Homo sapiens: one gene and its partners. The protein of the gene in region 1 interacts with the protein of each later gene in a biochemical or structural test. Each region holds a gene or a part of one and is shown in the gene's direction. Other genes may lie near its edges.

What was found.
Region 2: the proteins of NGF (region 1) and SORCS3 interact in a biophysical measurement, tested with the Homo sapiens proteins (one study listed by IntAct).
Region 3: the proteins of NGF (region 1) and LRP1 form a complex in vitro, tested with the Homo sapiens proteins (one study listed by BioGRID).
Region 4: the proteins of NGF (region 1) and A2M form a complex in vitro, tested with the Homo sapiens proteins (one study listed by BioGRID).

Annotation. Positions count from the first base shown.
Region 1 is NC_000001.11:115,285,706-115,293,536, reverse strand, and holds the end of NGF (beta-nerve growth factor precursor), read left to right. Parts: intron 1-6,729; coding exon of another isoform or gene 6,730-6,741; coding exon 6,742-7,467; 3' UTR 7,468-7,620; downstream 7,621-7,831. UniProt on the Homo sapiens protein: Nerve growth factor is important for the development and maintenance of the sympathetic and sensory nervous systems.
Region 2 is NC_000010.11:105,196,852-105,204,682, forward strand, and holds part of SORCS3 (VPS10 domain-containing receptor SorCS3 precursor), read left to right. Parts: intron 1-3,147; coding exon 3,148-3,265; intron 3,266-4,268; coding exon 4,269-4,402; intron 4,403-7,831. UniProt on the Homo sapiens protein: Plays an important role in modulating synaptic transmission and plasticity in the hippocampus, probably by affecting the trafficking and localization ofAMPA-type glutamate receptors in the postsynaptic density.
Region 3 is NC_000012.12:57,194,483-57,202,166, forward strand, and holds part of LRP1 (prolow-density lipoprotein receptor-related protein 1 preproprotein), read left to right. Parts: coding exon 1-21; exon of another isoform or gene 22-94; coding exon 95-217; intron 218-502; coding exon 503-619; intron 620-788; coding exon 789-917; intron 918-1,175; coding exon 1,176-1,298; intron 1,299-1,380; coding exon 1,381-1,521; intron 1,522-1,604; coding exon 1,605-1,795; intron 1,796-2,499; coding exon 2,500-2,683; intron 2,684-2,816; coding exon 2,817-2,902; intron 2,903-3,062; coding exon 3,063-3,182; intron 3,183-3,673; coding exon 3,674-3,861; intron 3,862-3,982; coding exon 3,983-4,188; intron 4,189-4,729; coding exon 4,730-4,918; intron 4,919-5,394; coding exon 5,395-5,543; intron 5,544-5,959; coding exon 5,960-6,053; intron 6,054-6,216; coding exon 6,217-6,333; intron 6,334-6,551; coding exon 6,552-6,671; intron 6,672-7,014; coding exon 7,015-7,137; intron 7,138-7,297; coding exon 7,298-7,423; intron 7,424-7,684. UniProt on the Homo sapiens protein: Endocytic receptor involved in endocytosis and in phagocytosis of apoptotic cells. Required for early embryonic development. Involved in cellular lipid homeostasis.
Region 4 is NC_000012.12:9,105,272-9,113,102, reverse strand, and holds part of A2M (alpha-2-macroglobulin isoform a precursor), read left to right. Parts: intron 1-413; exon of another isoform or gene 414-566; coding exon 567-726; intron 727-891; coding exon 892-944; intron 945-2,768; coding exon 2,769-2,789; intron 2,790-3,067; coding exon 3,068-3,236; intron 3,237-3,697; coding exon 3,698-3,782; intron 3,783-5,458; coding exon 5,459-5,579; intron 5,580-6,497; coding exon 6,498-6,612; intron 6,613-6,757; coding exon 6,758-6,867; intron 6,868-7,831. UniProt on the Homo sapiens protein: Is able to inhibit all four classes of proteinases by a unique 'trapping' mechanism. This protein has a peptide stretch, called the 'bait region' which contains specific cleavage sites for different proteinases.

The DNA of each region.
Region 1 (7,831 bases):
AGTCAGAACCAACTGCTGAGCAGCAGGGGCCTAGAGAAGCTTTCAGTGGTGCAGCAAATGCAGCTCCCCTAGCCCACTCAGGAAAGGAAATCTTTTGTGCATGCAGGTTGGCCCCATGGGCCCCAGGGACATATCAGGAGTCTGAGCTGCATCAAGGGTCTAAAGTTGCCGAACACAGGACCTCGAATAGACAGCGTCAGTCAGACCCTCCACACAACTCTCTGGTCCGACTGAGCAGGGAACTTGCAAAATGGAAGGTTCACAGCCACTCTTTGTGCCCTTCACCAGTGGAGTAGAGGGGTAGGGAAGAGTTCCAAATCTGCACACAGGAGGTGTGGCTCCGAGTTCCACTTCTGTTTGCTGTGTACCTGTGATGCAATTACTTAATCTTACTACATCTCTGGTTTCTCATTGTTAAAATAGGAATAATATGGCCAACCTCCCAGGTTTGTGTAATGGTTAATTAGAAAATTATACCCAATAAATAATAATTACTATTATCTCAGCTCATTCATGTCAAGGTATGTCTTTTAGAATTCAGATCAGTAGATTTGGTTCCCATTAATGTATCCAGCACAGCTGCCCTCCGAGAGCCCAGTGACCCCACAGGCGCTGGTACCTGCTAGTGTTTTCTGGTTGCATATTTCTATCATGGGCATTTCAAGTGCTTTTAGATCAAGTCTACACGGTGCCCAGAAACCTAACAAAGCAGATATGAAAACAATTCAATATCTAAATATTCCCTAATATCTGGATTTATGGCATCAGGAAGGTAAAACTTACAATCTGTTGAATGGAATTTTCATTTCGATGTTGGGGGATGAGTATACTCACCCCACCACCTATCAGTTACAGTGTGCATACGGCTTCAGGCCTCTCTCCTCTAAAAGATAGCAAAGCTGAGCTCAAGTCAGGTGTTCACGGACTGGCCCTGCCACTCACTGGCTGCAAAAGCCCAAGTCACTTAGCCTCTCCAAGGCTCATTTTTGTCTTCTACAAAGTTAAAGAATTAGGCTAGACTCGTGGCTCTCAAAATATGGTCCCCAGACCAACAGCATCAGCATCATCTGGAAACTTACTAGAAATGTAGATTCTTAGTGTCCTCCTACCAGACCTACAGAATCGAGCATTCTGGAGATGGGGCCCAGCAGTCTATAGTGTAACAAACTCTCCAGGTGATTCTGATGCCCTGAAGTTTGAGAGCCTCTGGACTTGAATCTCTGATGTACCTTCTAGGCCATGCCTCCTCCCAATAAATCCTGTCCTAACAGAAGCTCTGGATTTTACTCTGTCGATGCCTCTCTCTGTTCAGCCCACCCCAGGACACCTCTGAAGTACCTTGCTGGAGAAATGAGGAGCCACAGAATTCCTCCCACACTCCACACCAGCTCCAACCCCCAAGAGTATTCGAGCCTTTACAACTGAAGACAGCAGCCAGTTAACATTTAGAGTGAAGGCCAAGCGTAAAACAAGAAATGACCCTTGGCCCACTCTCAGAATGTGGCGAATGAGATGGAGGAGGAGGAGGCTGGATTTCCTTGGCCACAAGAATTTCCTCTCTCACCAACTGTTAGTGACCCTGGTTCACGTATCCCATCTCTAGCCCAAGAATCACTCGTGGCTCTTGGCATGGCTGTCTCTAAGACAGGAATTCTCTCACTCCCTTCTACAACACATCTCCCCAGGCATGGTTGCCAAGCCTCCCAGTGCCATCAGCCCTCCTAACCACAAATATTTGGGCCAGTTGCTTAGCTCTGTTCAGCAGCTCCATCACCTATTCAGGTGAGGCCAGAATCTTTGAAGATCATTCACCTCGTGCGAGAAATTTATCCTATTATTGGAGTGTGTGAACCATTGGAAATCCACAGAATGTATCGCTGGTTCAGAAGAGGGCAAGAGGGCAGGGCAGCCCATCAGTGGCTGGTTGTAAAGGCATCCCAATGGGCTGCCCCACTCTTAGTCATGGATCTTCCATTCTAGGTAGGAGTAGGACAATTAAAGAGCATTCTCATATTAAATAGAACATGTTCGTTCATGTGAGCCCCTAACTGCATCCTCCTCAGCTGATCATTCAGCTTGCAGAGCTCTGCTTAATAAAGCCAGACAGAAAGCTGTCATCTGTTCAGGAGAAAGGCTTCAAAGGGTGTTTTTAAAAAATAAATAAATAAAACTTCTCCCCTGGTTCACATCAACCAAAAATAAAAAGAATGTTCTTTTCTAAATGGTGCATTATATCACTAGAATAGAAAATGCACTCAATTTTTCTTTTATCTACTGATCACTTTTAAGAGAGTTTTTTTTTAAACTTAAAAGTTTATAGGAACACACTCTCATGAGTAAATTAAATATTTTTTTAAAAAAACTTTAAACCTAAAATCTAAATGAGAGATATATTTGAGACATTTTCAAGTCTTAATGAAACATTCTGCCTGTGATACAAATCTCCATTGTGATTAAATGTGATACCATTTGGTATCTTGACTGTGAGTGGAAAAGTAGTGTTAGAGTGTAGGAACTTTGTGAAGTCAGTTCAGTCAAACCAGCAGATGCAAGGCAGGGTAGAAAACTTCATAATTACCTGAAATGAAAGAATATAATGGTTGGAAGATACCTTTAACATCATCATGCAGATGGAGAATTAAGGAACACTGGAGGCAGGAGACTTGTCTACATACTCACAGTTTCTTAGAGGAGGAGTTACCTAGGAGTTCTAGGTCACCTGGGGGCAACAAAGATGAGTAGGACACTTTGCTGCCTACAGGGAGTTTGTCCTCTAGAAGGGAGGATAAAAGAATACAACAGCCCTAAGAGAATATAAAGGGAAGGCTTTAAGAGATAGAGAAGGGGCAGGGCGTGGTGGCTTACGCCTATAATCCCAACACTTTGGGAGGCCGAGGGGGCGGATCACGAGATCAGAGATCAAGACCATCCTGGCCAACATGGTGAAACCCCGCCTCTGCAAAAAATAGAAAAATTAGCCAGGCGTGGCGGCGTGTGCCTGTAGTCCCAGCTACTCAGGAGGCTGAGGCAGGAGACTTGTTTGAACCCAGGAGGCAAAGGCTGCAGTGAGCCGAGATCAAGCCACTGCACTTCAGCCTGGGTGACAGAGCGAGACTCCATCTCAAAAAAAAAAAAAAAAAAAAAAAAAAAGATGAGAGAAGGTAGTTTGTCTCAGAATTAGAAAAAGCTCCCCAGGGGAAGCAGCATTGAAGTTGTTGAAGGACAACAGGAAGGATTCCACCAGCAGAGGTGGAGAGCAGAAAAGGCCCTGAGAGGGTAGGGGAGCATACCTGGAAGGGAAGAGTCTGAAAAAGGGCAGTGGTGGGGAAGCTCAAGCAGGAACTGCCCCCAGGAGTTTTGTGCACTCGGAATGCAAACTATGTGAGGGGAGTAGAAGGAGGCAGGATCCCATTGCCAGGCAGAGCAGTCCCTACTGGCTTACAGACAAGGGACTTGGCACCAGCTCCTTTGAGCAGGGTGATATGATCAGAGCAGGCTTTAAGAAGCTAAATGGGGTGGCCAGGGATAGGAGGAATTGGAAGAAGAGAGATGAGGGTCCAGGATATCAGGTGGGAGACTGTTCCCATGACCTGAACTAGGGGCCCAGAGATGAGAATGGAAGATAAAATACAGTTTCAAGATAATGCTACCAAACCAGAACCAAAAGGGCTGGATGGAGGTCAGGGAGGAAAAAGCAGAGGGATAAGCAGAGGTATGGAGCTAGTGGATGAATGAATGATGGTTCCAGTAACAGAAAAAGGAAACTGTGAAGAAGCGTGTTTAGGGAGATGAGGAGAGAGGATCAAGAGAGATGGTAGCTGTGAAACTATCATCAAATGGTCCAAAATGGGGCTGTTGCTATTGTATGCAGAGAAGGAAGATGGGGAGAAGATGATCCTAATTATGATTATGAGTATGAAGATTTTTGTTTTGGATGTCTTGCATTTAAAATGCCAGTATCTATGGAGAATTGCCCTCAGGAAGCAGGAGGGCAGAACTAGCTTCAAAAGACTAGTTGATTCGAGATCCAGGTATGGGAGTCAATTGCACAGAAATTTCGATGGGCTCCTTAGAAGAGGAGGAGCCCACCAAAGGAGAGACCAAGAATGAAGTGGGAACCTCTGGTAATGGGGAATAGGGAGAGGTATGTCCCTTATGTCCATCGAAACCCTTTTATTTAGTTAATTTCATTTTCCTCTTGAAATTCTAGCAAGTGTTACTAATTTGGATATAAGGGAATGAATTTCAGTTTTCTTTCTTCTCCTTTAATGTATCTGATAAGAGATATTATGTACCGAGAAGAACAAAGAAGTGAAACATGAAAAGGAGCAAAAGTAAAAGGTTTAGATTTGCTGCCAACTGAATATTCAGTCCGCTAAGAGTTGACCGGACATTTATCTGCAAGACCATTAGCCAACAGATCTGGTAATGGTCAAAACCCCAGATATGCCATTGCCTCCTTTGCATGGTCAGCTGGAGAACTGGAGCAAACAGAAACATTCTTCAAAGAAACCAAAGAGAAAAGAATTTGGTGATTTCCTTCTTGGTATCTCACCAAAGAGCTGTCTATTTCCAGCTGAATAAAAGCACAGTATGGAGGAGAAGAATGTGTTGCCTTAAAACAGATTAGAAAAGCAGTGTGTAGCCATATGCACAAAGGCCAAAAGAAACCACACACTGTGATGGAAAGAAGGCAGATGGTGAGCTTCTCTTGCCACTCTCATTCATTCTTTCTTTCATTCATTCTCCTTAAATTTTTTGAGTACCTACTACATGCCAGACACGGCAACTGGCCCTGGAAATATTGAAATGCAAATTGTGCAGCTTGCAAAGCCCTCTCAGGGAGACAGACAAGTTAATGATTATCCACAACCCTAGGAGAGGTGATAGGGTTATGCACAAACTGCTGTGGAATACAAGGGATGGAGTGCCCAGATACACAAGTGGATGAGACACGGCTCCACCCTCGAGTATCTCACAGTCAGGGTGAGACAATAAAAATGGCTTTGAAGGAGGTCTGAGAGAGGTAAAACCAGCAGTAGAAAGCACAAAAGACAAAGTCCTTGACCACAAGGAGACAGAAATAACTCATGATTTACACAAATTTTGTGAGAACCTACTTCATCCTAACAACTACTCTGGGAGATAGTGTTTTTTGCCCACCTCCGATCAATGGGAACGCTAAGGCTCTGGGAAATTAAATGGGTTTCTTCTGCTAACAAGTAGTGGAGTAGGAATCCAAACACGATTTTCTAACCCCCAGACCCAATGCAGAGTTCTTGTCATTACACTGATTTAGTAGGAGAGAACACACACACTCACACTCACATGAACACACACATATGCACATACAATTACGCTATTCTGAAGTGCAGAATGGCAAAAGATCATTTTTGATTGGAGTGATCTGAGAAGGCTTCGAGGACTAGGTCGTATCTGTGTGGAAACGGAGCAGAATGACCCATAAGAGTGGGAAGGAGAGATGGGAGAAAGGATAGAATTGGAAGTTTGTAGAGCACTCTTACAAGAGATATTTCTGATCCTACCAGGAAGATCTATGGAAGCTTTACAGAGGAGCTGACGTTTGCTACACATCTACAAGTATGCATAGGAGCTCCGCGGAGGCCAGTGAGAGGCCCTCCAGGAGCAGAACTAATTCCACAATTACTTGACCAAGTTGGGGGATTATTTGTGGGGTAACTGCAGTGCAGTATGGAGTCCTCTTGGGGACAGTTAGAGCCATACCATTTGATCTATAGTCACATAAGAACAAACAATAAAAAGAAAAGACATGCTTAAGAGTGAAAGAGAAAGGGAGGGAGAAAAGAAGGAAGGGTGGATGGAAGGACACTAGCTTAGTAAGGGGTCAACTTTGGATTCTATTTCTGGTTCAGTTTTCATTTGTGACTTCAGTGCTTTAGTGTTAGTTCATTTTCTGTGAATCAGTTTCCTTATATGTGAAATAAATATGATAAATCCTAATTGAACTCACAGACTCATGAGAAGATAGAAGTGAACACATTTTAAAAACATCACACAAAGAGGAACTATTATGTGGTCCACATTTATATATGTGGGGTAGCGTCTGAAGAGGTGCCTGGACTAAGATGGTCCCAGAGCCACAAGGTTTTTGCCAAACATGACGCTTTGTGAATTCATAACAAGGGCTCCGAGTCACCAGATCTTAGAGCTGACCCAGTGCACTGTCTGAAAGGGGGTACCCAGTTCTGAGGCTTCAAGACATGTCCCCAGCAGATCTTCCCCGTGCCTTCCCAGAGGATTCAAAACTGTTGAGCAGGACGGCACCATCACATCAAGGCACAAGTGCCAGGGAGAGATGTTAAACTCTCCCCACCGGCCTCCCTGGTACACACATGGACACTTACCACCTCCCTCAGCCGCCTTAAGCTTCAGAGAACTCAAAGGACTCTGTAAGTGATGTCTCCAAGCTCATATCGAACTACTGGGCAAAATTTCAGGGGCTCTGTCACTTCCTGGAGAAGCTCGGATGGGGTGACCACACATCCATACTGCCTGAGTCAGCCCCGGGTTACGCCTGTTGTCCCGGTATAACCATTGCTAGCACACCCTTTCCCTCTCAGAAGTGCCCCGGTTTGAATGAAACCTCTTCGTGATCCCCTTGGGAGGTCAACTCTGAGGGACCCAGAAACTGCCTTTTGACTGCATTTAGTACTCCATGAAGTCACCCTCATTTCTTTTTCATTCCAGGTGCATAGCGTAATGTCCATGTTGTTCTACACTCTGATCACAGCTTTTCTGATCGGCATACAGGCGGAACCACACTCAGAGAGCAATGTCCCTGCAGGACACACCATCCCCCAAGCCCACTGGACTAAACTTCAGCATTCCCTTGACACTGCCCTTCGCAGAGCCCGCAGCGCCCCGGCAGCGGCGATAGCTGCACGCGTGGCGGGGCAGACCCGCAACATTACTGTGGACCCCAGGCTGTTTAAAAAGCGGCGACTCCGTTCACCCCGTGTGCTGTTTAGCACCCAGCCTCCCCGTGAAGCTGCAGACACTCAGGATCTGGACTTCGAGGTCGGTGGTGCTGCCCCCTTCAACAGGACTCACAGGAGCAAGCGGTCATCATCCCATCCCATCTTCCACAGGGGCGAATTCTCGGTGTGTGACAGTGTCAGCGTGTGGGTTGGGGATAAGACCACCGCCACAGACATCAAGGGCAAGGAGGTGATGGTGTTGGGAGAGGTGAACATTAACAACAGTGTATTCAAACAGTACTTTTTTGAGACCAAGTGCCGGGACCCAAATCCCGTTGACAGCGGGTGCCGGGGCATTGACTCAAAGCACTGGAACTCATATTGTACCACGACTCACACCTTTGTCAAGGCGCTGACCATGGATGGCAAGCAGGCTGCCTGGCGGTTTATCCGGATAGATACGGCCTGTGTGTGTGTGCTCAGCAGGAAGGCTGTGAGAAGAGCCTGACCTGCCGACACGCTCCCTCCCCCTGCCCCTTCTACACTCTCCTGGGCCCCTCCCTACCTCAACCTGTAAATTATTTTAAATTATAAGGACTGCATGGTAATTTATAGTTTATACAGTTTTAAAGAATCATTATTTATTAAATTTTTGGAAGCATCCTGTGTGCTGATGCTGGTTATTTTTTTTGAGTAAAATCATCTGCAAGTCTGAGGAAGATGCAGGGGGAATTGTCTGAAGCACCCCCTGGCTCCTTCTAAGGCCCACCTGTAACCCTTACCCCACCCCCAGCCAGTGCTGCAACTTCAGGAAAGGCTAACTGGTTTCAGATATTAGCCTAAGCCAGGCATGATTAGCAAAGGAAGCCTGC
Region 2 (7,831 bases), on another chromosome or scaffold:
AAAGAACAGACATTTATTCTCTTGTAGTTCTGGAGTTTAGAGTCCACAATCAAAAGGTCAGCAGGCCTCTACTCCCCTGGGGCTCTAGGGGAGAATTCATTCTTTGCTTCTTCCATCTTCCTGAAGTTCCAGGTGTTCTTTGGCTTGGGCTGCATAACTCCAATTTTGGCTTCTGTCTTCACATGGCCTTCTCCTCACTGCATGCTACTCATCTTTGTGTCTTTTATAATGATACTTGTCATTGGATTTAGAGCCCACCCTGATAATCCAAGATGATCTCAACTCAAGACCCTTGATTTATAAGTGCAAAGATACTTTTCCCACATAAGGTCACATTCATAGCTCCAGGGAATAGGAAGTGGTCATATCTTATTGCAGGTTACCATTCAATGCAGTGTACCGTCTTAGTCACTCTCTTCTTCAGTGGTCCTTAAACTTTAGGAACTATGAACCCCTTTGAATAATCTGATAAAATATATGTGATTTTTATTTATAGATGAGTACTTATGTGCCATTAAGCACCTTTTTGTTTGTTTAAAATTTAAGCAGATTCATACTTCACCACCACTACCAAAGCCCAAACATGTGCTGTAGATTCAAACACTCAGTCTATATCCTTCTTGAATGGTAACAGTCAAAAGCAACCACAATTTTCCTGGTGATCTGGTTAATGTAGAAAAAAACAGGTTATTGCCTCTTTGGTTCTAGACAATACATATAATTCTGTTAATGCATTTCAAGATCACGTTAAATATTTTATGTCTCCCTGAAGTGTTCACATTGTGTGTGGAAACTCTTAAGCTGCTATTATTATTACTATTAAACCTGAAAAGTACCAAGCCCCATTTCTTTTATCTGGTACTTATGTAATTACCATGGAGAGGATCTAGCTAACATTTCTCTAGGTGACATCACACCTTATTAAATTAAGCCTGTCTCTTTAGTCTGTCACGACCTTATTGAGTCTTGCTTCTGCCATCGAGCATATTGAGGGCTTCCTCCAGCTTTATGTCATCAAAAAATTCAATTTCCAATGATGACCATTATTTTCATGTCTTCAAGTCGTTAATAAAAATGATGAACAAGAAAGAGCAGACAACAGAACCTTGCAGCGGACTACTCACACCTCCCTCTTGGTTGATTTTAATGTCTTCATTAGGTACTGTTCAGCCACATAATTTTACCAAGCACCTGGCTCATATTTTCTCAATCTTTTTGTCAAGATTCCTATGACAGACCCTGTTCAAATGCCATGCTGGTATCCAGGTAAATCATGTGCTTCACATTTTCCTCTTCTGTCTGCCTAGTAACCTTTTAATAGAAAGGAATGTGATTAATCTGACATGACGTTTTTTGTGATCCAGGAAGTAAATTTGAACTATGTGGAGTCAACAGAAATATATGGTTTAGCATCATTAACATCCTGCACTAGTAAGTCTTCCAATCAGGGAAGACTTACTGCTGGAAGTGGTATCTGAATGCGAGAGTTTTGAAGGCTGGATAGAGAAAAAAAAGATATCCATCAAGGTCTCCTCCCACTGTTTTTGTTTGTTTGTTTCGTTTTCCCTTGATGAGGCTTATCAGTTTAACTGTCCTCTCTTCAAACAAGCAAAAATGTTTGATAAGAGAGAGCTGTTTTGTTAAAGATTTAAAATGGACTGACCGCTATGTAAAATGAATTTAGAGCTAAGAAATGGAAATACCTTAGTGGATGACCTGGCATTGATGAATTGGATTTGGAAACCACTGGATTTACCAAGACTACAAGAGAACAGAGAGAACCCAGGGAGAGGGAGTTAGGTTTGCTTTGCTCCACAGTGTCAGCTGCATATGTTGGGTATTCTAGGCTCAGAGTTTCTCCTACCCCATGCTGAGCTTAGATCCACACAAAACCCATGTAGTTTTACTAAAGGAGAGATCCTGTCTCTCTTTCAAAGTCTGCTTAATTTTCTTTTAGATAAGCCTCTTAAAGGTTTTATTTAACTTTTATCTGAAGCACATTCAAAATTGATCCTGAGATGTATTGTAAATTGGATGATCCACAAAAGCAACTCTATATTCTTCCTCATTTCACAAGTTTTGTCAGTCTCTACCTTTCCCATAAGCATCCTCATCTTTTAGAGAGCATAAGAAAATGACCCAGGAAGAGAGTTAATCTTGTAGGTGTCACCATAACAGTATCTGAACTTGGGCAGAGGAGAATCCAGGGCTGGTAGTGTGATTAAGTCTTGCTGAAATGGAAGCCATCCAATTCCTTGAAAGACCTCAGTTGTTTTAAGTTCGCAGCATGATCGGTCTCCCCTTTACATCACTATGATAGATGTCTTGCATTGTAATTGCAAGACACGCCACCCGAGTAGAGTATGGATGATCAGTCTTTTTTTTTTTTCCATTTTTCTAGAAACAATTGATCATTCATATTTATAGGGCAATCAACTGCTGGGCTTTGAAAAGGTCAGTATTGATTATCTAAGTCACAGATGGTGTGCTTCTTTACTATACATAAATATGAGTTCCTTTTATGAGTCTGCTGTGATTCTTTTTTCTTTTTAAGGAAGGAGGAGGGAGGGTAGGTAGGTATTCATGTGCGTTAAACAATGGAATTTCAACTAACACTTAAATTCAACTAGGACTTTGCAGTTGGCAAAGTTGTACTTTAAATTAGCAAATTCATTCCTTCTACCCCAACACATATACTTACAATCCACTTTACAGATGAGGAAACTGAGTCCCTGTCCATGGACATGGGTAGGCAAAATGCCAGTGCTTGCATTAAGGAGAAATGGGAAGGCTGTGTATCTAAATCTGAACAGGGGTTTTATATGGGTGTTGAGTTTGGGACTACCGGTCCCAATTTTTTTTCTTTACTGGGCTTTTTATATTTTAAATGCTTCCTGTAATAGGCATATATTACTTTTGCAATTTAAAAAATGGTTGATTTAAAACCCACTGTGAATGACATGCCAGTTGATTGAATTGTATGGATAGTGGACTTTCTCCTTAATGGCCCTCAAGGAACTCACTTTGGAAGAATAACTAAAGTCCAGGCTGCAGTGAATCTCTATCTCCTTCCTAGTTTCTGTGCATTAGTGACTGACTATGGGACTTTCTCCCCTTGTGTCTCCCACTCCTCCCCTAAACACTTAGAGTTTTTGGCCACTTCAGCCTCCGCTCCGAATGGCAATTGGTGAAAGTGGACTACAAATCTATCTTCAGCCGGCATTGCACCAAGGAGGACTATCAGACCTGGCACCTGCTCAATCAGGTACACACCCCAGGGAGTTGGAGTGCTGGCTTTGAGGAGGAGGAGCTAGTGCAAGTCCGACTGGGTCTTATCTGAGCCTTCCTATTTAGGGGAGGAAGGTAGTGGGTCATCTGAGGATGTGGGTGTGGATTTGGAGAAAAGGGTGAAACACACTCAGGTCCAGTAGGGCCAGATGATATTTAGGAACTATCTCGCACCCTGGGATCCTATCTACTAATTGAGGTCACTGAGCTGCCTGGGGGAAAGGTGTTGATGATAACCTGGGGTTTTAGCTCTATCCATGGAGAAATGAGCTTTTTACAGCTAGAAGGCCTCCAAGAGTTGCTCATTTTATCTGCCAATGTGGAGGGCGAGAGCATTTCTCAGACTAGCCTGAAATAAGGGACCCAGAGCACTGGGAACAGGTCCACTGAGAAATGGTGTCAGGGTGGGTAGGTCTAGCAATGGTAGATATTTACTGCTGTGAGAAATAGGCAGACTTCTGCTCCAGAACCACTGGGTCCTTGTAATTTGTATCAACTTCTCCTTTCTTTGTTCTTGACTGGGAATTAAGATTTGGGCATGGTCGTTTATCATAGAGAAGGAACATTTTGGGTCAACTTCAATTTCCCTCTGAAGACCATGTGAAAAATGTGCCATAAATGGGCTCCTTTCCACTAGAATTGCTACTGAAGCCATTTGGGCAAATGTACCTGGTGGTCTGCAAAGATGCCTGGAGTCCTTACATTCTCTATGGAGGTGGAGCAGAAACGGGATGATGTAGACATCACTGGCTTGGGTGGGTGGAGGGTAGAAGTGGGCCCACCTTCCATAATGTTCCTTTTATGTGGTAGTGAAAGATTAGCACTTTTATTCTTGAAACTCCTGGATCATTACTGAGAATGAGACTGCTACATAAAGTACCTAAATGAGAATGAACAGGCTAATGCTTCTTGTTGACAACTGGTTTATTTCACCACCTTTTTGTTTTTCTGTCTCTCACACTATGGAATTTCTCTCTAAGGGAGAGCCTTGTGTCATGGGAGAAAGGAAAATATTCAAGAAACGTAAGCCAGGAGCTCAGTGTGCCCTGGGCCGAGACCACTCAGGATCAGTGGTCTCAGAACCCTGTGTCTGTGCCAATTGGGACTTCGAGTGGTGAGTTGTTTGGCATTTCATTACCAATTCCAACCAGGTCTTCACCTGTCTGTGGGGTGGGGTGGGGTGAAGATGAAGTTAGGAGAGGAAGCATGACGCAGAGATAGGAGGTGTATCTGCTGGCCTGTGGGCCCATCCATCCCAGTTACTGGGCCAGATGGGAAGTCTGCATTCCTGGAAGGAGGACAGGCTGAGGCATTTTCACAGAGAGAGTCACTGATCTATCAGAGCAGCATCTCTCAGGGGGCTTCTTCTCATCTACACTGAGCAGCTGTATTGGAAACTACTGGAGAAGTTGTGCTGGGCATTGACAGAGGTTAGAGAGCTACTGCCTTGCTGTTGCCTCCAGCCACATGCACTCTCACTGTGCTCTTCTACGTGACCTCTCTCTTGTTTCCTTTTTCTCCCCCTAATAACAGCAATGGAGAACAACCTTAAATCTCACTTAATGAAATTCAAATCTCACCTATAGACAATTACTCCCAAATTTCCAAATATTTACCTCTGGCCCTGGCCTCCCCCTTCTCTTGGTTGGACACATATGTGTCTGGCTGTCTACTCAGCATTCATCTCCTCTTGATTCACTATCAGGGTTATCAAACTTAAGGCAGCCAAAGCAAAGCTTTTCTTGAATCCCCTTCATTGGAAGGAGTCCCTTGCCCAGTTTTTCTAATTTCAATAAAACACACAGCTATCCACTCAGTTGCCAGAAGGGTTTGGTTTCTCCTTTTCTTTCACTGTCAGATCCAGGCCATCTGCAAGTCCTTGCAGTTTCTACCCTCAAAACACATTCTAAGTCAAATCACTTCTTTCCATCTCTCAGCTGTTTGTATCACTCCAGGAATCGAACTCTCTCCACATCCACCCTTGTCACTTAAAATTCATTCTCCTCACAGCAACCGAGATGGTATTTTAAAAACTCAAACCATATCTTATCACTACTACACTTAGAATACTCCAATATCTTCCCCCTCACTTAAAATCTAATCTTCTTTCCTTAGTTTCCTCCATTGTAGGTGATTTAGCCCTGCAATTACCTTTATGTCAAAATTCCTTACTGTTCTTACCTCATTCACTGTATTGCAACCGCATTACCACCTCCTGCACCTTTATTAATCCTGGCTCATTCCTAGCAGAGGGAGCAGAAAATGCAAGAATTTCTTCCAAATCTTAGTATGGCCGGCACCTTTGAGTCACTCATGTCTCAGCAAAAATATCAGCTTCTCAGAAATGCCTTCTGAGACCACCTAATCTCACCTATACCCTGGCACAGTCTAGTATATCCCTGTTTTATTATCTCCTTAGTATTAATTGCCGTACAAAATGAACATGTTTTTGATTGTTCCACTATCACCTATCTCTCCAGTAGAATGTAAGTGCTGGGAATGCAGGAGTTTTAGACTTTCCTTGTTTCTGCATCCACAGCGCCTGGCCCGCTGTAAACATTCAATAAAGAGTTGTAGCATGTTTCTGAACATTGTTCCTTTTAGGAGGGTCAAAAATCTCCCCAATTCTGGGAATGGGTACATAGCACTCCGATCCCAGCTGGATGAATTCTTCCCCTGCATCACAATAAAAAGCTAAAGTTCAATTTGATTATTTTGGTAGCCCATCTCAGCTTTGTCTTTGTTAAAAGACAAAACTAAGGGCTTGGGCATTGGCCTCTAAACTTGGGAGGGGCAGGGCAATGATGGAGCTGCATTTGGGCTTCTCTGGCATCAGATAGTCAAAGTAAGTCCAAGTGGGCACAGAGCAGCTGCCCCTGAATGGCAGCCTCACTTCTTCCAGCCTCATTTCATCCAGCTGGTTTTTTAGCTTGATTTGTACTAGAAACTATCCTTTGTTTCCCACTTTCTGCTAGGAATATAACTGGAAGCCAGAGGAGTGACTCTGCTCTCCACCTGTTCTTTATCCTTAAACTCATACCTAGGAAAGCATGGCTTCAGTGAAATTCATGAAAATGAGATATACTAAGTGTAATTTAAGTTTGACTAGCAGAGTCCTTTCTGTGACCATTTTGAGCCCTTGGCAGCAAAGTATATTTTCACATTGTGAAAAATATTTTCAATTATTAATCACAATTAAGCAAAAATAGTCACAGCAATGAGTGCAGTAGGCCACTCAAAATTATGGCTTGTGACATATTGATGTCAACCTGAATATTCAGAATATTAATTTTAGGCTTCCTTGTGTCCTTCTGCAGACTAACTCCATTGAGGCACACTGTCTTTGAATTTGTCATGATACATATTCTCCTGTGTCTCTGTGTGCCATAATAGACCCTCACCCATTGTTGGGTAGCATCACAAGTGAGAAGAAATAAGAACTGTAAAATATTTTCTCATCAGTAATTCCATTAACATTTACTGGTCTGGGCAAAAATTCTAGCACTGATAGTCACAGTTTTTGACCTTGGCAAGTTTTCTTAATCTTTGTGACTTCATCTCTATAGCTGCAAAATAAAAATACATGACATCTACCGCATTGGGTCCTAAGGAAGAATAAATGAATTCATATATTAATATACATCATTAATATAGATAAGGCATTTATCCTACTGATGTATAACATAGAAATACAACATAGGCTAGCTATTGCTGCTGCTGTTGATGCTGTTGTTATTCTTACACCCTAGGGTTAAGTGGTCCCTATGGTATTTTTGGAAGTAAACCAAAGCTTATACATCCAAATAAGCACTGTTTTCAGAGTAGGATCTTGGGGTCTGATCCATTTACTTCAGTACTGGTGGCATTGCTCAAAGTATTTCTGAACCCTTCTTTAGGGAGTGCTGTCAGAATCCATCTATAAGTAAAGCACGGTGGGAGAGGCGAGGGGGAGCCTTTACACGGCCTTCTGTGGTTCTCATACTTGCACTGGTAGAGGTACCATGTGGATCCAAGACGCTGTAATGTCAGGATCTTTATTATTGCCTTTTAATGAGAAGAAACATCTTGGATATAGGTTACTTGATCAAGGTTACATCCCTGGGAGAGAATGAGCTGGGGTTCAAGTGCAGATTTAGTTAAATTCCACATTCTCTCCTCTACACCCTGCCATTTCTCAAGAAATCAAACAAGTCTTTATTATTTTAGATTCATTTTGCTTCAGAAAAAAATAAAGTTTCCAAGTTTACTTACTCTAAAATTAAAACTCATCCCCAAGGACTTGGGTTTACTGCTGTTGATGAAATATAAGGTAGAATGTTTCCTCAACACTAAAACAATTTCCAATGAAGTAGTTTTGACCATTGGTACTAGAATCATAATAGGTGTATGGTCTCCAAAAATATTTTATAGAATTTTTTTTGATATATAATGTGGTGTATGTTTGCATTTTTATAGCCAATCACACCTCATATTAAAAAGAATATAGAGAACCACTTGAGTAAAGTAGAGAAGTAGACAAGGCCAGATGCTCAGTTTGTGGTCA
Region 3 (7,684 bases), on another chromosome or scaffold:
GTGATGAGCGCGACTGCCCAGGTGGGCGGGGGCAGGTGTGTGGTGGGTGGTGGCCTGCGGTGAGCAGGGCCCTCACACCTGCCTCGCCCCCCAGGTGTGAAACGCCCCAGATGCCCTCTGAATTACTTCGCCTGCCCTAGTGGGCGCTGCATCCCCATGAGCTGGACGTGTGACAAAGAGGATGACTGTGAACATGGCGAGGACGAGACCCACTGCAGTGAGTGACCACTGCACCCACTCAGTGCTCCAAGAGCCTGCTGGGCCCCACTTCTTAGTCCCCCCCAGCAAATGCCCCCTTGGAAAAGGGCATCCAGAGCCTTCAACCCCCTGCCCCACACCCCAACTCTTGAGGTCAGACTCAGAGACTCTGCCTCTAGCTGCTGCTGAGCCCCCCCACAGAGGGGTGCTGTGGGCATCTCTCCTGTCCTTCCCATGGCATCAGCCTCCCCAGGTGGGTGACCCCCACCCTTCCCCATCTAACTGTGGCTTCTGACTGCCCCAGACAAGTTCTGCTCAGAGGCCCAGTTTGAGTGCCAGAACCATCGCTGCATCTCCAAGCAGTGGCTGTGTGACGGCAGCGATGACTGTGGGGATGGCTCAGACGAGGCTGCTCACTGTGGTAAGGAAGCTGGGATTGGGCCGGGGGAGGTGCCCCAGGGAGGGACAGACCCCACCCAACTCCACCCCACACACAGACACCCCTGCAGACGACGGCGAACCATCACCTCCACTGCTAGACCTGATCTACCCGCTCCTAAGTCTCTCAGTGGCCCTCTCTCCCCCTACAGAAGGCAAGACGTGCGGCCCCTCCTCCTTCTCCTGCCCTGGCACCCACGTGTGCGTCCCCGAGCGCTGGCTCTGTGACGGTGACAAAGACTGTGCTGATGGTGCAGACGAGAGCATCGCAGCTGGTTGCTGTGAGTGGCGGGGCCACGTGGAGCGGGTGGACAGCAAATGGCCACAGTCTCACTTTGCAGATGGGGAAGCCGGGGTGCAGGAGAGGAAATGCCTCAGCGGGGTCCACTGGGGGCGGAGCCATAGCTGTAGCCCAGGTGTCCAGACTCCTCATCCAGTGCCCTGCCCACTCTACCAGGAGAACCACAGGAGGTTAGAGTGAGGGACGGTCGGCCGCTGGCCAGGCAGGGCTGAAGGGCTGTGTCCACCTCTGTCCACAGTGTACAACAGCACTTGTGACGACCGTGAGTTCATGTGCCAGAACCGCCAGTGCATCCCCAAGCACTTCGTGTGTGACCACGACCGTGACTGTGCAGATGGCTCTGATGAGTCCCCCGAGTGTGGTGAGCCTTCGGCGGTGGTGGGAGGAGGCCCTGCCCTCTGCCGGGCCAGGGCATCAGCCTCACAGGTCCATTCCTCCCCCAGAGTACCCGACCTGCGGCCCCAGTGAGTTCCGCTGTGCCAATGGGCGCTGTCTGAGCTCCCGCCAGTGGGAGTGTGATGGCGAGAATGACTGCCACGACCAGAGTGACGAGGCTCCCAAGAACCCACACTGCACCAGCCAAGGTGGGCCCCAGACCTGGCTCCCCTCTGCCCCCTCCCCAGACTGCCTGAGACCCCGCTGACCTGCCGCCTCCGCCCCTCCGCAGAGCACAAGTGCAATGCCTCGTCACAGTTCCTGTGCAGCAGTGGGCGCTGTGTGGCTGAGGCACTGCTCTGCAACGGCCAGGATGACTGTGGCGACAGCTCGGACGAGCGTGGCTGCCACATCAATGAGTGTCTCAGCCGCAAGCTCAGTGGCTGCAGCCAGGACTGTGAGGACCTCAAGATCGGCTTCAAGGTATGCCCAGCCCTGGGGAGGAGCTTCCACACCCCAGACGTGCCAGGAACGCCTTTCTCCACTGCCTTATTCATTCATTCATCCCCTAGACAGTGGGGATACAGCAGTGAATGAGACAGAAATCTGCTTGGTTGGGGTCTGCCTCTATCTGGCAGGTAGAGAGCCAGCAGATTTGCTGACAGATGAGATATGCAGTGTGAGAGGAAGAGAGGAGTGAGGCATCAAGTAGGCAAGAGATACACAGGTCTGGAGTTCAAGGAGAGGCCCAGGCTGGAGAGGGAAGTCTGGGAGTTATCACCATAGAGATGCTATTTGAATCTGTGAGCCTGGATATGATTCCCAAGGGAGCAGTGTAGGTGGAGAAGAGAGGAGTCCAAAGTCTGAGCCCCGAGCTGAGCAACAGCCAGGAGCAGGGAAGTGAGGGGACCAGCAGAAGAGCCTGAGAAGGAGCAGCTGCTGAGGCAGGAGAACAGCCACGAGAAGAAAGCATTTCCATGGGGAGGGCACACGCAGCTCTGTCAAATGACACTCGGGGGCACACAGAAGGAGGCCTGCACTGTGGGCCAGCTGGGTGGGCTCAGTACCCATATGCTGCTGCCCCTAGTGAGGCCGGGTAGAGGGAATTGGAGTCTCTGAGCCAGGTCTCCAGGGTGGGAGGCCCAGACCCTGCCACATGCCCAGCCCAAGGCTCCCTGTGCCTGCAGTGCCGCTGTCGCCCTGGCTTCCGGCTGAAGGACGACGGCCGGACGTGTGCTGATGTGGACGAGTGCAGCACCACCTTCCCCTGCAGCCAGCGCTGCATCAACACTCATGGCAGCTATAAGTGTCTGTGTGTGGAGGGCTATGCACCCCGCGGCGGCGACCCCCACAGCTGCAAGGCTGTGACTGGTGAGATGCGCGCTTGGAGGGCATGAGGTGACCCAGGCTGTGTGGGACTGCCCGGGTGGCAGAGCTCCAGACAGGCAGGAGACCAGGGCCGCTAGAATGTGCCAGGAGCTGAGGCAAGATCCTCTGTCTGCAGACGAGGAACCGTTTCTGATCTTCGCCAACCGGTACTACCTGCGCAAGCTCAACCTGGACGGGTCCAACTACACGTTACTTAAGCAGGTACCAAACCCAGGCCCTCCTCCCCGCTGCCCATCTCCCAGACCCAGCACAGCCTCCCTTGCAAGTCTCCCCGCTTAGGTCCAACCATCCCTCCCCCAGATGCAAATGTGGCCCCTGTTGCCACAACCGACTTCTGCTGTCCTTCACTCCCCAAATCCAGGGCCTGAACAACGCCGTTGCCTTGGATTTTGACTACCGAGAGCAGATGATCTACTGGACAGATGTGACCACCCAGGGCAGCATGATCCGAAGGATGCACCTTAACGGGAGCAATGTGCAGGTGAGGCGGGCGGCCCTCGGCGACCAACACTGGCCCGCCTCAGATGACTGTTTTCAGATCGTCTCTCCTTCCCGCCCCACCAACCCAAATTGCTTCCTTCTCACTCCACTAGTCACTATATGACTGCTTGTTCTAGCTGCTCACTCTCCTCTGGGCCCAGACAGCAAGGACTGGGAGATTCCTCTTGCCCTTCCCCTCGCTGCCAGCCTCATGTCTCCTTAATCATCAGGAAGTTCCCTGTGAGGTCTGGCCAAGCACTGTGAGGCTTGGGGCGTGGTCCCATTCACCTAGAGCCCCCTCTCCTAGAGCCTCTGCTGACACCTACACAGTGTCAGGCCCAGGACTGGGCATTTTACTTCCATGGTTCTCCCACCAGAGCTGTCAGAGGGAGCTCTACCCCATTTTACACGAGGGGAGGCTGAGCCTCACAGAGGCTTGCAGGTCCTCCCCCAGGTCACCCAGAGCTCTCCCTCCCCTGCCCCTTCCTGCAGGTCCTACACCGTACAGGCCTCAGCAACCCCGATGGGCTGGCTGTGGACTGGGTGGGTGGCAACCTGTACTGGTGCGACAAAGGCCGGGACACCATCGAGGTGTCCAAGCTCAATGGGGCCTATCGGACGGTGCTGGTCAGCTCTGGCCTCCGTGAGCCCAGGGCTCTGGTGGTGGATGTGCAGAATGGGTATGTGGCTGAGGAGGGTTGGGGGAGCCCCTGAAAGCAGCATCCAAGCCCAGCCTCCCTGCAGGCCACTGGTGCGATGGGTTACGGGATCTCCCAGGGCTCACTGCCTACCCATCGCCAGGTACCTGTACTGGACAGACTGGGGTGACCATTCACTGATCGGCCGCATCGGCATGGATGGGTCCAGCCGCAGCGTCATCGTGGACACCAAGATCACATGGCCCAATGGCCTGACGCTGGACTATGTCACTGAGCGCATCTACTGGGCCGACGCCCGCGAGGACTACATTGAATTTGCCAGCCTGGATGGCTCCAATCGCCACGTTGGTCAGTGTGCCAGTGAGGCTGTCCAGGCACAGCAGACTCAGTGGGGATGGAGGTCTGAAGCGACAGGGGATCAAGTTTTGGGGGCAAGAGTGGACATAAAAAGCGGAGGATATGGCCTGAGGACACCACTCACTGGGGTGTGGGGTTCAGAGCACCCCGGGGGCTTCCCCAGCCTGGCCACCACCCAGCTCCCTTGGGAAGGAAGAGGAGAGGCCCTTCCCTTGTATACACAGTTCTGGAGGACTGGCCCCAAGGAGGGTGGGGGTGGGAGGCCTGCGATTGAGAACTGCAGTGCTCCCCACTTCCCGAGGGGAGCCATACACTGGCAGGGCAGGAACTTGCCATGAGGCAGTCTAGGTTTGAACTCCAGCTCTGACACTTGTTAGCTGTGAGACCATGGGGGGTCTGTACCATGAACCATCTGTAACTGGGGCTGACACCCACCTCTCAGGGTGGTGGTAGGGCTTGAGGAGGTGGAGTGGGCCGGCACCCTGTCCGAGCTCCGGCTGACTGGCACTGTGCCTGCCCCTTGGCCCTGCAGTGCTGAGCCAGGACATCCCGCACATCTTTGCACTGACCCTGTTTGAGGACTACGTCTACTGGACCGACTGGGAAACAAAGTCCATTAACCGAGCCCACAAGACCACGGGCACCAACAAAACGCTCCTCATCAGCACGCTGCACCGGCCCATGGACCTGCATGTCTTCCATGCCCTGCGCCAGCCAGACGGTGAGCAGGCAAGGGGTGGGAGCAGGCGAACGGTGAGCCAGGCACCGGGGTCCCTGGGAGTTCCTGCTCATCCCTTCTCTAGCATTGACCAAGCCCTCCTGGCCAGACACTGGGAGACTCCAGGAGGGTCTAGACAGGGGATGGTCTGGCTCCCGGGAGCTTCAGCCCGGCCTGGATCCAGCCCTGGAGTCTGGCAGCAGCAAGTCCCTGAGGCCAGTCAAGTGGGGGTCTGGGTGCCCAGCCCCCAGAAGGAAGGCAGGCCGGCCCCTGGGAGGGAAGCACAGAGGAGGTGGGGAGCTGGCCTTCAGGCCTGGCCTGATCCTGGGACCTTAGAATCCTCTCCTATCTCCAGCTTCAGCTCCCTCCTAAAAGAGGCAGGGTTCAGACCCACCCGCCTCTGTCCAGGATAGAGTGAGTGAGGCAGCCTTTGGTAGGCCAGAAAATGTCACCATATTTCACGACGTTTTCTCTGGCAGTGCCCAATCACCCCTGCAAGGTCAACAATGGTGGCTGCAGCAACCTGTGCCTGCTGTCCCCCGGGGGAGGGCACAAATGTGCCTGCCCCACCAACTTCTACCTGGGCAGCGATGGGCGCACCTGTGTGTCCAACTGCACGGCTAGCCAGGTGAGGCTGTCCCCCAGACCCCATCACCAGTGCCCGCTCCCCAACCCCCAAATCCTCCTTGGACCCCAACACCTGCTCTGTCCTAATGTCCTCATGCATCTGGTTTTCCCACACTAACACCCCCACATTTCTTGCCTACCTCTTGTCTCCCCACAGCAATACTTTTACCCCCGTCACCTCACACAGACACCTCCACACCCTAACCTTGACCCTCCTTGCCATGCTTCAGTGCTGCCTTCCCCACCCTATCCCACGCAGCCCCATACCTGGCCTTTCCGAACTCACCATAGCCCAACCTGCCCCATAACACCCTGACCCCTGCCTCAACTTCTTTGAAACATCCAAGCCCCTCAAAAGAAAGACTTCTGAGTCCCCCAGACCCCCACCAACCCCTCTTGCCCCCACCTGCCCTCCAGTTTGTATGCAAGAACGACAAGTGCATCCCCTTCTGGTGGAAGTGTGACACCGAGGACGACTGCGGGGACCACTCAGACGAGCCCCCGGACTGCCGTGAGTGCCTGCTGGGGGTGACAGGAGGGCCCCCAGCTGTGTCGGAGGCCTGACTCCTGAGGCTTTGAATGGCCACTGGAGAGGCTGGGGCTGTGGTGCCCTGCAAGTGGACCTGGCCGTGTCCACCCCAGCCGCTCTGACTCTGAGCCTCCCTCTCTGGCAGCTGAGTTCAAGTGCCGGCCCGGACAGTTCCAGTGCTCCACAGGTATCTGCACAAACCCTGCCTTCATCTGCGATGGCGACAATGACTGCCAGGACAACAGTGACGAGGCCAACTGTGGTAAGGCGCTGCCCGCCCACCCTCCCTCCTTCCCCAGCATCTTCCCTGCCCCAGGATTTGGGGCTTTCAAGTGCAGGGAAGTTGCAGCCCACGGCAGCTTGCTCTCCAGGCTGGATTCCTATGGCTCAAGCCTGTGTCCTCCCTGCTGAGGGATGGGCACCCTCTCCCTGCCCCTGAGTCCTCCCTTCGCCACGAATCACCTCCTCCTCCCTCCACAGACATCCACGTCTGCTTGCCCAGTCAGTTCAAATGCACCAACACCAACCGCTGTATTCCCGGCATCTTCCGCTGCAATGGGCAGGACAACTGCGGAGATGGGGAGGATGAGAGGGACTGCCGTGAGTGTCAGAGGTGGTGGTGGGCCGGTGGTGGGAGATGACACGGAAGCAGGGCAGGCAGAATCTCCCCACAGCTTTGAGAGGCTCTCAAATAACTTTAGTAGATGGGCAACACAAATTATATTGGGTGTAACTTGCTTTGCTCATAAAAATCATCATGCATGATATAGAGACATAGAGATCCAGAAAACAAAAAGCACCAAAACTGGGGATAAACTGTTCCTTCCTCCGAAGAAGTTGCTGGCAGGACCAAGGCCAGGGCTTGGAAGAGAGAGAAGACAGTGATGGTGAACTGGAGTGGCAGGTGTAAGGGAGGGCCCTCATTCTCTTGCCCACCCCACAGCCGAGGTGACCTGCGCCCCCAACCAGTTCCAGTGCTCCATTACCAAACGGTGCATCCCCCGGGTCTGGGTCTGCGACCGGGACAATGACTGTGTGGATGGCAGTGATGAGCCCGCCAACTGCAGTGAGTTGCCTGGCCTGGAGCCCAGCTTCCCTCCCCAGTGTCTGCTGCTCACACCACCCCGACGTGTGACCCCCTCAGTGGCTGCTCCCTCACTCTCCCCACCCTCCCGGCACACTCCTGGAAGGAGTCTCATCCTCACCCCATGCCCACCCGCTTGCAGCCCAGATGACCTGTGGTGTGGACGAGTTCCGCTGCAAGGATTCGGGCCGCTGCATCCCAGCGCGTTGGAAGTGTGACGGAGAGGATGACTGTGGGGATGGCTCGGATGAGCCCAAGGAAGAGTGTGGTGAGCCGAGACCCCACTCCAGGAGGAAGACAGTCTACCTGGGTGGGAGGCATGGCACCCCTGGCAGGTGGAGGGCTGGGGGCCGCCTGCTTACCGGTCTCAGCGTGGCCCTGCTGCTGGGCTTCCTGGGCCTGCTGTGGGGCTGGGGAAGGAGGCCTGGCTGGAGCTCACTTCCCCACATCCACCCGTGCCCCATGTCTCCCAGTTTCCCTATCCCTGCCCCTGCCCACGCCTCATCCACACATACCTGTGTGGAGTTTT
Region 4 (7,831 bases), on another chromosome or scaffold:
AATGTGACTTCTTAAAATTAAGATGGAAAAAATATTAATAAAGCAAACTAGACCAAGGCTCAACATGAGCCACCCGTGGTGGACTGACAGGAACACATCACTCCACACTACTTCTAAGAGTAAAAATTGTAGAAATTACCCTGAGCAAAGGTGTAATATCTCTTCAGAGTTGTCCACATGTGAGATGCTTACAGCCTAGTGTCAGTAAAATACGGGGTTTTTTTCCATAGCCTGTAAAACATGCTTCGACCATGCCCTTTTAGCATGTAATATCAGCCTGGTAAAGCTCAGCGTATAATTGAATCAAGACTGTTTCTGTGAGCTGTATGAAGGTGTGAATCTCACTTACAACCTCTCTTACTGATTTATTTTCCTCCACCTTGTGTCCTGTCTCCCCATTTGTAAAATGGCAGAAGTGATTCCTGTCCATGCCAACTTTCCCTGCTGAGAACAAGGGAGTGAAGTTAAGTAAGAAGGGCAAGATCTCCAGGGAAGAGTGCAACAGCAAATAGGGGAGGAGACCTGCGGGTGCTGAATGGGGTTTCAGGATCGGTCCTGTATTTCAGGTCCCAAAGTCTTCATCCAATGAGGAGGTAATGTTCCTCACTGTCCAAGTGAAAGGACCAACCCAAGAATTTAAGAAGCGGACCACAGTGATGGTTAAGAACGAGGACAGTCTGGTCTTTGTCCAGACAGACAAATCAATCTACAAACCAGGGCAGACAGGTATGAAGAAGCCTACAGACAGGACAACTTCAAAAAGGAAAGATCTTCTTCCCCTGGATGTTCCCCAGGCAAAGTTCCTATAATCTTGGTTCCTTAATAGCTTGTCTTACCAGCCTACAGGCCTACTTTGGGTTTGGGGGCTCATGAAAAATATTTCTGTTTCAGTGAAATTTCGTGTTGTCTCCATGGATGAAAACTTTCACCCCCTGAATGAGTTGGTGAGTTTTCTATTATCTACATAAAATGATTGTCTGTATAAACAGGCTGGGAACCTGTTTTTTGTGCTGAGGGAAGACCAGGGAGAGGAAGAATCTGGTATCATTAACAGTAACTTCTGGCATTACAACAGCACAAGATCCTAATCTAAAACATCATTCCAGGTAAAGAAAGTAGGTAATTCTTTCTGTCTTGGTGCTGGTACTCAGTCAGTTGTCACACAATTAAATTTACTTTTCGGATGGTTCTTAATTAGGACAATTAGAAAGATACATTCAATAGCAGACACAGAAAAATCCTCAAAGAACCTAAGCTCAAAAAACATTTTAAAGATTTAGATTTTTTCTATACACATCTACCAAAATCTTCACTATAAAGGAAAGTCAGGGTAATTAATTTGTTCCTCAAGACTAACTCTTGGTATCTGTGATAAGAAACAGTTCTTTCTATTGTAATGCAGACATCAACCCAAAGTCTTCATTTTTCTCTCCCAAATTAACTTCTTCACATTTTCTTATCTCAAAAAGAGGCAACTCTTCTCTTCTAGCTCCAAAGACAAAAGATTATGGCCTAGTTCTTGTTTCTCTTTCTCTCATACCCACATCCACTTCACTGGAAAATCATGTTGGCTTAAAATATATTCAGACTATTTCTTATCATCTGAACTACTGCTGCAAGCTAGTCCTAGTCAATGTCATCTCTAAATAAGATCATTACAATAACCTTCAAAGTGGTCTCCCAGCTTCTACTTTCACTCCTCTGTCTAAAATGAGGCACCACACCCATCACTCTGTCAGCCTAACTTGGCTTTGTTTTTCTATTTGCACTTACCACCATTCTATACGTATTGATTTTTAAAAATCTGCCTATTTCTATTATAACATAAGCTCCATTAAAACATGGTTTATTGTTCTTTTGTGCGTGGTTATATTCTCAATACCTAGAATGATACACAGCGCATGAGAAGGTACTTAATAAAGATTAGTTTTTAAAAATGAATAAACATTCATAGTAGCTTCTTATCAATGTTTATTCATTTTTAAAAGTAATATTTATTAAACTAAATTTATTAATGAAATATGTCCATTCCTCCTCATTCTTAGAACTACGTAAGAATTCTATGACCCATCTTAATGATTACATCTGAACATATTTACTTATAGTTACATAAGTGTTTATTTCTCAACCTGTAAAATTGCATAGCAAAGGATTGATCTTCACTAGGATGCTATAAGCACTTAAGACATGTTAATCCATTTTTAGTAAATGGCACTTTACATGTATATTTGTTGCTGAAGGCCTAGTAAGTTCTTAACATTATTTATTAATTGCTTAAAATAGATTAATGAAAAGTTCTATAAAATTTAATCTGGAATATTTCTGTATTTCACTATAGAGGGAATTATTCTATATGAAACTAATTTAGATTTTTTAAACTTTTTATTGTTTTTAATTTTTGTGGAAACATAGCAGGTATATATATTTATGGGTTACATGAGATATTTTGATACAGGCATGCAGTGCATGATAATGATTATGGATGATAATCATTATCATTATCCATATCATTATCCAATCATGGATAATGATTATTATCATGCATTGCATGCCTGTATCAATAAATGGAGTACCCATCCCCTCAAACATTTATTCTTTGTGTTACGAACAAATCCAATTATACTTTTAGTTATTTTTAAATGTACAATTAAATTATTTTTTACTATACTCACCCTGTTATGCTAGCAAATACTAGCTGCTTTGCTTATAAATGAGATTTAAGAATATTTGAAAATAATTATAAACTTCTTTTTTCTTTTGTCTTTCAGATTCCACTAGTATACATTCAGGTAAGCAACATGAAACATTCCATATTAAAAGGAAAGCAATACATATAGGGAAAATGTTCTTATTTCAGAGGTTTTTACAATATCTCAGAAACTTGTCATTAAAGGAGAAGCCTTCAAACTCCCATAGAGCTAGATGGCTATAACTCATCTCCTCTACTCACCCTTTACTACTACCCCATTTGACCTTTTTGTAGATAACTTAGGGTTTCCATAGATATCTTTTATTAGCTCCAATGCTCCAGGTGCTTTTGTAAGTTATAATTAATTTACTCATATAGGATCCCAAAGGAAATCGCATCGCACAATGGCAGAGTTTCCAGTTAGAGGGTGGCCTCAAGCAATTTTCTTTTCCCCTCTCATCAGAGCCCTTCCAGGGCTCCTACAAGGTGGTGGTACAGAAGAAATCAGGTGGAAGGACAGAGCACCCTTTCACCGTGGAGGAATTTGGTATGGATCATGAAAAGTCATCAAGCATTATTTTTCTTCATATTTAAACTCTTAGGTCCTGGAATTTAAGTTCATTTGGAGTCTTTCCATTTCCCATGGGTGACATTGGGCTTGGAGTAGAATTAATTACACCTAAGTCCAATGAGGACATCAGTGATCTGTGAATAGGACTTCACATAGCTTCGTTATTTTCTGTAGCAATATTTAATACCAACCCCCAAAATTAAAACATTCTTGTTTTAATGGAGTTTTCCATAATTAATTAAGCACACAGTGATCTCTCATAGTCCCTCAACTGAAATCTTCATTTGAGAGGAGGATAGATAAGAATAGATTGGAGAGCAGAGCTACCTTTTCAGAGCCCTAAAATATTATTAGGGAACTGTTACAGGGAACCTGAAAATAGGAATTCCCCCAAAGTTGAAAACCAATCACCAACCTTCTTTATCACCAATCAACAGTTCTTCCCAAGTTTGAAGTACAAGTAACAGTGCCAAAGATAATCACCATCTTGGAAGAAGAGATGAATGTATCAGTGTGTGGCCTGTGAGTTCATTTTTTAAAAATCTTTTGTGGGGGATTATTTAAAAGAGACTCACCATTTGGGATATTTTAACTACTCTCTCCGGGAGCAGTGGCAACACAAAAATTTTAAGTGCTTTGACAGCATCCTCATCTGTAGAATGTTATTCTCCTGTTGCTTTTCTATTTTTATTTTCTTTCACGTTCTTATCAGTATTATTCTATCATGAGGTAAGAAACTGTTTCTAGAGAGGTTATGCTAATAGGATTGATTCTGAAAGTGACAAAACTGCACACACACACACACACAAAATGGGAAGGGTGGATAGTGTTGAAGGGTATTGGTTCTGCCTTAACCAAAAATAACCAAACGTATATTAGGGAGATAATTAACACATGGCTATAGGGGAAATTCAATCATCAACAGATCATTTACCTGACCTTGCATGCTTACTGGAAAAATCACTTAGATTCAGAATTTGTAGAGATAGGCATACAACTGAAATCTCATCTAACTCACTAGTCCACCTAAGGCGGGTCTACATACCTGTCTGCACTGACATTTTTACGAAGAGACTGAACGTGATTTCTCAAGACAGTCTGTTCCAACCTTGAAAAGTCTTGTTTCCTGGATCTTATGTTCCCATCCATGGTGGCACACAGTAGCAGTAGCAGGAAGAGCAGGTATAGTCCTGTCCAAAGATCACACATGTAATACACCTACTATTCAGCTAGGCCCCTGCTCCAGTTCTGTCTCACAGTGATGGCCAAGTTCCTGGTTCCTCATAACTGGTGTGATCTTGCAAATAGACATACAGAGGACATTCTCAAATAGGAAAGGAGACAAATGCACTTGGAAACCCAGCAATTGTCTATGACATATTTACGACACAATCCCACTTTTGTAAAAAAGTAAACAGGCCCGGCGTGGTGGCTCACGCCTGTAATCCCAGCACTTTGGGAGGCTGAGGTGGGCAGATCACGAGGTCAGGAGATCAAGACCATCCTGGCTAACATGGTGAAACCCCGTCTCTACTAAAAAATACAAAAAATTAGCCAGGCATGGTGGCCAGCGCCTGTAGTCCCAGCTACTTGGGAAGCTGAGGCAGGAGAATGGCATGAACCCAGGAGGTGGAGGTTGCAGTGAGCCAAGATCGCACCACTGCACTCCAGCCTGGGCGACAGAGCGAGACTCCATCTCAAAAATAAAATAAAATAAAATAAAATAAAATAAAATAAAATAAACAAGTGAAACTCGATATAGAGATGGCTGCACATGGGGAGAGGATGATGGAAGAAGAGACACTATCGTACTAATAGTTTGTATTCCTAGGTAGACTTGAGGGCGTTTGGGTTTTTTTTGTTCTGTTTTGTTTTGTTTGTTTCGTCTTGCTGGTATTGTTTCTCTTTTAAGAACGGGTTTAAGTTTTATAATAAGAAAGACTTTTTTAAGATAAAACTAAAAAAAAACGAGGAAAAAAAAGAAATGATAAAAGAAGAATGTAAATTTCAGCATGTTGCAATGGAGATTTCTATAAGAGCCATTAGTGACTCTTGTCTTCAATATTGTGTGAGCCCAGCAGAGAGCAGAGGGAAGTACAGACAGGGAATATACTGTAGCTAAAGGGGAGATATAAATAGCTAGAAAATGGGGAGGTTCAGTGTCTGCTCTGATTCCTTTGGGAATGTTCTCATGACAGATACACATATGGGAAGCCTGTCCCTGGACATGTGACTGTGAGCATTTGCAGAAAGTATAGTGACGCTTCCGACTGCCACGGTGAAGATTCACAGGCTTTCTGTGAGAAATTCAGTGGACAGGTAGGTTGAACACTATTTTTTCTAGAGAATAGCGATAAAGGCATTGTTGAAAAGCAGTGAGTTGCAGCATTTTTCTGACGCAGGAAGAGAACAATCTAGAAGAGAATTCCATGTTGGCTATTGTAATTTTTCAAAAAAAATCATGAACTTAGCACAATGGGAATTATTTATTTCTCGTAATTGCCCATTGTGAGTGTTTCAGAACGATAGACACTGAGCCATCTAAAGCCTCCATGGGCATTCACTTCTACAAAGGAAGGAAAAAACCATACACCTCTTAATTGCCTTAGCTGGCCAGGCCATCAGTTCTGCTCTCTCTGTGAACAAGAACCTATCACATGGCCCCACCAAGATGCCAGAGAGTTGACAAACACAGTCCCCATATAGAAGGCCGCTTCCCAGCCACAGCTGAATATTATGGAGGAGGAACCAGACTTTGATGAGGAGTTCTAATGGTCAAGAGCAGATGTACTGTGTATTTCAAAATAGCAAGTGGACAGGACTTGAACTATTTCCAACACATAGAAATGATACATACTTGAGTTGGTAGGCACCCTAAATCCCGCGATGTGATCATTACACATTCTCTGCATGTAACAAAATATCTCGTGTACCCCATAAATATGTATAAATATTATGCATCCTTTGTACAAAAAAAATTACTCCTCAAATTTTAAGACATTTCTATCGCAATATATCTAGGGAATTTCAGATACCAAGGAATACATCTGTCAATTATACATGAGATATTGTTGTGAAATTTAATATTTAGTTGCTAGAGAATATTTATTGTGTCCTCGTCATAGAAAATGCCTACATGATGTTGTCCCCCCACAAAAATCACACCGGTTATCTGACCACTGATCTATTTAGTATAATATGCATTATATTTTTGTATTTTATTTTCTCCCTTCTTAGCTAAACAGCCATGGCTGCTTCTATCAGCAAGTAAAAACCAAGGTCTTCCAGCTGAAGAGGAAGGAGTATGAAATGAAACTTCACACTGAGGCCCAGATCCAAGAAGAAGGAACAGGTTTGTGTACTACATGGGTATAAGAGAAAACACAACAGGCATTGATTTTCTTAGCCAAATAATGAATTGTAAGTTGGGGGGAGGTGATAGAATTTTAGAGACATCATTCTTCCCAAAAATAACAGATTTTTTTCTCTTTTTTCAGTGGTGGAATTGACTGGAAGGCAGTCCAGTGAAATCACAAGAACCATAACCAAACTCTCATTTGTGAAAGTGGACTCACACTTTCGACAGGGAATTCCCTTCTTTGGGCAGGTGGAGTATTTTCCAGTTCACTCATCAACCCATGTACTGTTACCTAATTAGCACAATAGTTATGGTTTGTGCTAAAACCATGCCTGGTTAATGTTATCATTTAATATAACCAAAAGTATAAAATATCACCAAGGCTTGATTAGTATAACCAAAGGTATAAAACTACATAAAAATAGATTTATTCTTCTGTAAATTTGTGTATGAAATGTATGTAATTATCCTAAGGCCTTATTAAAATTAGTAGAGTTTTCCCCCCTTCTTTTGAAACAGCATTGTACAAGTCACTCAATCTCCTTCTCATGGTTTACCAGGCAGTCTCAGGTTTTTATGACATTTTCTCACAAGAATCTCAAAATTCATGCTGACCAGTTTCATTACGATGCTAACACTAACTTTGTATGGAAACAGGTGGGTAGGTGGTTTTAATTTTTATTTTGAAGTATTAAAGATTCTACAATAATGTTTATTTCATGGATAGTATATTTACACTATTTTTCTATAACAAGTATATTTCTAAAACAGTGAACATGGGGTAAAACACTGCTATTTAAGGTTCTCAGATTTTTGAATTATGAATTTTCATGTTATCTACCAAAAAAATCTTCTCTTACAATTTTTCTGTTGTCAGCAGATGTGCAAATGGATCTTTATGACTCTAGAAGTCTGAGATCACAGTTACATGTGCCTCAATGTGTATTTACTGTGTATCATTTTCTTAATGTAAATGTTACAGGATTTCAGCTATGAAGGGTGTAAAAGAGGCATAGACTCAACAAAGTGGAGTACATTCTAGAAGGCTTGGTTATGTCATGACACCAAAATGTATTCAACTTCCTAAAATGAAAGTGTAGCTCATTTGTAAATTTCTCAGAAAGATAGTGTACTTTGTAAGTACATTTTATTGCTGTTAAATATCCTATTTGTCATAAGACTCTCTAGCTAGAAGAAAATCAGAATTATGTGC